Linked DNA regions of Homo sapiens: region 2 is linked to region 1. Evidence: fine-mapped expression QTL. A gene starts in region 1. The other region holds a variant in brackets. All regions are shown on one strand. Distances are between the middles of the regions.

Region 1 (2,912 bases):
AGACCAGCCTGAACAACATAGTGAAACCCTGTCTCTATTGAAAATACAAAAATTAACCAGACATGGTGGTGTGCACCTGTAGTCCCAGTTACTCGGGAGGCTGAGGTGGGAGAGTTGCTTGAGTCCAGGAGATGGAGGCTGTAGTGACCTGCAGTGAGCTACAACTGCACCACTGTACTCCAGCATAGGTGAGAGCAAGACTCTGTTTCTAAAAAAAAAAAAAAATTACTGGGCATGTACTGTATGCCATGTAGGTGGTGGAGACATAGCAGGAGATCAGACAAACACTTCCCTGTCTGTGTGGCAAATATTAAACTTGCAATAAACTTGCAAAGACAAATAAAGATAAAATTTATAGAGATGTCAAAAATAAACATATAATTGCAAGTCACATTCATTTCTCTTTCTCTGCTATTCCTGCTCTCGCCTTCCCTCTTCTGCTTCTCCTCTCTCCGTCACAGACACCCACAACGTCCCTCTGCAGTCACTGACAGATACCCCAGGTTCCTTCCTGTCTTCCTCCCCGCCACCCCAGTGTGTTACAGCTGATTTGTACAGCCCTGGACAAGCCCATGGTTAAATAGCTAGGGATTTCATCAGCCTGGTTGGCAAACTGTAGGTAGCTTAAAATCAGACATGCTATGAGTATTTACACCAGAGAAATAGGCCAACACTACGAGGCAGGATTTGTGGGTATTGTTTTTCAGAAAACTTGGTTTTTCAGCACAACACTGCTCTCCCATCGGCTTCCAGCAAATAAATGTTGCATTTTTCAGATATATCCTAATTCTTTCATAGATATTCAGTCTCTACTCCACCTCTGGCCAAGCCTTTCCTGGTGGTAGGAAACTGGGGACTTGAGTCCTATGTTGTACTGTGAGGGTAGAGAATAGAAGAGAAAGCATGAGAGAAAAGCATGAAAAGAAGAATCAAAAGAAAGCAATATAAGAAGGAAAGAGAAAGAACAGAGAAGTGGGAAGACAGTGGAGGGTAGAAACTAGGACCGGAAGACATGGGGACAAGCTGATGCCCACTGCACAACGTCCTCACAGGTAGTTGGGCCATTTCCCCATCTGGGGTACAGAGGTGGCCAGGGAGCCCATGAGAAATGAGGAAACTGCCTTCCCAAACTACTGGAGAAAGAGGGTGGGGGTGGTGATCCACATAGCTGGGCTCAGGAGGAAAGAGGGCTGGGAGTCTGGACCGGGGGAACCTCGGGTCAAGATGCCACAGTTTCTAACTATGGAGGGCCTGGGGGCCTGGACTCCTGGGTCTGAGGGAGGAGGGCCTGGGGGTCTGGACTCCTGGGTCGGAGGGAGGAGGGCCTCGGGGCCTGGACTCCTGGGTCTGAGAGAGGGAGGCCTGGGGCCTGGACTCCTGGGTCTGAGGGAGGAGGGGCTGGGGGGCTGGACTCCTGGGTCTGAGGGAGGAGGCACTGGGGGCCTGGACTCCTGGGTCTGAGGGAGGAGGGACTGGGGGCCTGGACTCCTGGGTCTGAGGGCGGAGGGGCTGGGGGTCTGGACTCCTGGGTCTGAAGGAGGAGGGGCTGAGGGGCTGGGGGTCCTGGACCCTCCATCTGAGGGAGGAGGGGCTGGATGCCTGGACCCGAAGGTCTGAGGAAGAAAGGGGGTCCCTGATAGGCCACTGCGGCCATTGAGACTTGGGGTGGGGCCCAAGCCTCCATTTTGCAAGGCCCTCCCCTCCCCACCCTTTTCTGGGCTGGCTGCTTAAGGGCTGGTATAAAGGACTTGTTTCCTGCTGAAAAAGCAGAAAGAGATTACCAGCCACAGACGGGTCATGAGCGCGGTATTACTGCTGGCCCTCCTGGGGTTCATCCTCCCACTGCCAGGTGAGTGATGAGCCCAGCCTGGAGGAGATTCCCTGGAGGCCGGGCAAGGGAACCCTGCTGAGATGGATTTGCTCTTGCCACTCCAGGAGTGCAGGCGCTGCTCTGCCAGTTTGGGACAGTTCAGCATGTGTGGAAGGTGTCCGACCTGCCCCGGCAATGGACCCCTAAGAACACCAGCTGCGACAGCGGCTTGGGGTGCCAGGACACGTTGATGCTCATTGAGAGCGGTGAGAAGGCCCTGGCGTGCAGAGACCCCGCCCTGTCCCCTCAGTCCCTTGATCCCTGTGCAGGGACCCGGGAGCCACCCCTCCGGGGGATCGACTCCTAGGGTCCCGGTGATCCCCTTTCCAGCCTCTCAGCCTACGCCGTGTAGCAGCGTCTCCCTCCAGGACCCTGGAGGCCTGACCTCCATCCTCGCTTGCCTCCCTCTTTCGGTCCAGGACCCCAAGTGAGCCTGGTGCTCTCCAAGGGCTGCACGGAGGCCAAGGACCAGGAGCCCCGCGTCACTGAGCACCGGATGGGCCCCGGCCTCTCCCTGATCTCCTACACCTTCGTGTGCCGCCAGGAGGACTTCTGCAACAACCTCGTTAACTCCCTCCCGCTTTGGGCCCCACAGCCCCCAGCAGGTGCCTGCGGGAGGGTCGGGAGGAGAGGGAGGGGCTGCTAGAAGGGGATCCGCTGAGCACAGAGGGGCTGTTACGGAGTCCCTCCCACCCTCGCTCGCTATCCCGACCCTCGCTGGCTCCATCCCTCCCCTGACTGCTCCCTGACCATCGCCCCGCCCCGCTCCCTTTCCATCCCTCCCCACTCACTCCCGATCCCTCCCACCGACCTGCCACCCGGGAATCCCCGCACCCCTCCTCTTCTAAGAGCAAACAGGACGGATTTCTGATATGAAATCACCATTAACTGGGTTATCCTGCATTCTTTTTTTATTCTGTTGCGTTTGGTTCAAGAAGTTCTCCTGCAGGGTTTTTGCTATTTCCTCTTCCTAAGGGAGACTGAACTGTAACTTTCCACTTTCCTTGTCTGGTGTTATAAAGAGTCTAGGGAGATATTTTGC
Region 2 (2,912 bases), 36 kb before region 1:
AAGCCACTGAGGCGGTAATTCCTCGGGAACAGACGCCTCCAAGTCCAGAGTGATCCCTGGAGCGGGTGGGGGGGACGAGACTTCCGCCTGAGGAGGAGGGGAGGCGGGACTTCTGCCGGAGGAGGAGTGGGAGGCGGGAGTTCCATCTGAGGAGGAGAAGGCGGCAGCCATACGGCAGGCAGCAGCAGCGCCGTGGGATTCAGAAACGGGAAGATAATTTAAAGGATCCCACTAACTGCTCTGGGCCTTTGTTTCTGTCTGTTACCGTCTTTAAGTCATTTAAGGGGTAAAGAAGGGCAGGCCCTTGCTGCTAGCATAAGGCATAATCCATTTTTTCTGGGGACATGGGGCTTTGGTTGTTAACATACATTATTAAAAGTTGACAGACCCAATCCTCATCTGAACCAAATTTTGGCCAGAAAATGGCAGGTTTTAAGGTTGGCTCTTGGGTCCAGAGGAAACAGCAATATTTAATCATCTGTTGTTTTCTCTTATATTTAGTCCGCTCATCCTCTTTCCAATATTATAGCATGAATCCTAAGGGACTATCAAAGGAAATTTGATCACTGTCCCCTCCCTTGTTGCCTGGTCTATTTCCTGTCCCAATCCTACTAGAAGCATTTCCCATGTTGAATCCCAGATAGGCCCAATCCCTTGTGCTAGGGATGTTTTGCCTCTTCCTTTCCCAGGAAGGCTGAATCCCCCAGATACCGGGGATGTCTCGTCTGTCCTGTCCTCAAGGCTTAATCTCTCACACCAGAGGTGTTTCACCGATTCTCTTTCCCTGCGAGGTTAACCTTCCTCCGTTTCCCTTTTGGAGGTTCCTTACACTCTTCCCGTTTATGTCCACGCACTCTGTCCAGCAACAAGTTGGTAATCGTGCACACACACTCAGCCTCCCAAAAGCTGACCACCAAGGAAGTACTTTGCTGCCCTCTTGCGGCTTTTCCTACCTTGGCCCATGCACGGCGTTGCCTGGTTACTGTGGGGAGTCCCGCAAGCCTGTCTCTTTCCCCGCGTTGCTGAGAATTCAAGTATATTCCTCTCACCGGGTAGGTCCCGGCTCTCCTCCTGGGGCTGCCGCAACGGGCGGCAGGGCGCCTCCCCACAAGACAGGGCCAAAGACTGTCCCAGAGGGGAATGTTAATCTCGCTGGGGCCTTCAAATTGTTGGTAACGGGTGCTCGGTGTCATAAAGATCAGCACTGAGGCACAGCATCTCTCAGCAAGGCTAGTTTACTTTCTGCAGAAAAAGTGCCGCTCGCCAGCAGTCTTGCCATGAATGCACACACGAACAAAGGAGACAAGGTCATTTATAACCTGATGCATCCACCCTACTGCTGTGTGCGGCTTCCAATGGCTGGAACAGGACCTCACAATTTGTACTTGACTC[A/G]AACTACTACAAGTCAAATACAGCAAAAATCCAAAAACCCGAATTTAAAAGTGAACAAAAGACTAAAATACTTCCCAAAGGAAGACACACACATTGCCAGTGAGGACATGCGAGGATTCTCAACATCACTAATACTTACGGATATGCAAATCAAAACCACAGTAATACACCACCTCACACACATTAAAATGGCTTTAATAAAAACAACAACAACATGAAACCACAAGTGTTTTCAAGTAGGTGGAAAAATTAGGGCTCTAGTGCATTGCTGCTGGTGATGGGAAATGTTATAGATGCTGTGGAAAGTGGTATGGCAGTTTCTCAATAAATTAAAGAATTACTACTTGATCCAGCAATTCTACTTCTGGATTCTAGGTTGTGAATGCGTTGATTATCTTTAGTGAACTATAGAAAGTTTTCTTTATCTGGTGAAAATACACTGTAACATAATAACTTAGTAGATAACATGAGCCCTCTTGCATGGGAGAGCTTTTATACAACCAGAACCAGAAAATATGCATTGAAAATAACAATTGAATGAAATCTCATTATAAAATGTTTAAATGGACCAGCAGGTGACCAAGTGTACCTGAAGCTTTGATTGTTTTCCCAGGAATATGGGGCCAAACATTGGTTATAAATTCTTTTAACAATTTATAAGTCACCACACCAATATATTCCATTTGAATATTTTTATCTTTTCCATGATGAGTCATGGAATGCAGAACTTTTAATAATAAAAGCTTTAAGGACTTAGGAAGGACAAGGTGGCCATCCTGGTTCTCCATGAGTCCATGCTTAATTAATATTAGACTCATATCCTCTTGAATCATAGTTTTTCTTCAAATTATGTGCATAGCACTGATAACTGATGGGTTATCATAGGTAATTTGACTTAGACCATGACGTTCATTCAAATTGTATATCTAAGTAATTTTAATGTCAGCTGATGTAGCATGAGTGCTGATTGGTTAGGTAGGAGATGAAATCATGGGAAGTTGAAGCTGTCCTTTTTTGCTGAGTCAGTTCCTGAGTAGAGGTCACAAGATCAAATGACCCATTTTATCGATCTGGGTGGGGCCAGCTCATCCATCCATCAAGTGCAGGGTCTGCCAAATAGCTCAGACAGATCTCAGGAGCAGTTTAGAGAGGGTCAGAATCTTGTAGCCTCCAGCTGCATGACTCTTAAACCGTAATTTCTAATCTTGTGGCTAATTTGTTAGTCCCACAAAGGCAGTCTTGTCCCCAGGCAAGAAGGAGGTTCGTTTTGGGAAAGGGCTGTTATCGTCTTTGTTTTAAACTGTAAACTAAATTCCTATTAAAGTTAGTTCAGCCTATGCCCAGGACCGAACAAGGACAGCTTGGAGGTTAGAAGCAAGACGGTGTTCATTAGGTTAGGTTAGATCTCTTTCACTGTCTCAGTCATAATTTTGCCAAGATAGTTTGAGGAGAATCAAATTTTAAAGAAAGACACATAATAGTGTCACGGCTAGCCTTAAATATTCTCTTGACTAACTTAC

Evidence for each region. PIP is the estimated chance that this variant, and not a neighbour inherited with it, causes the effect.
Region 2: its variant is fine-mapped to the expression of CD177 in whole blood (TOPMed, PIP 0.92).

Annotation. Positions count from the first base shown.
Region 1 is chr19:43,351,918-43,354,829 of GRCh38, forward strand. It overlaps CD177 (CD177 molecule), which reads left to right and starts at 1,769. Exons shown (of 9, transcript NM_020406.4): 1 at 1,769-1,849; 2 at 1,936-2,076; 3 at 2,290-2,475. The coding sequence starts at 1,798.
Region 2 is chr19:43,315,951-43,318,862 of GRCh38, forward strand. No RefSeq gene overlaps it. Among named protein-coding and RNA genes, the nearest start is that of LINC03078, 14 kb to the right of the region's middle. The variant A/G (reference allele first, on the strand shown) is at 1,393.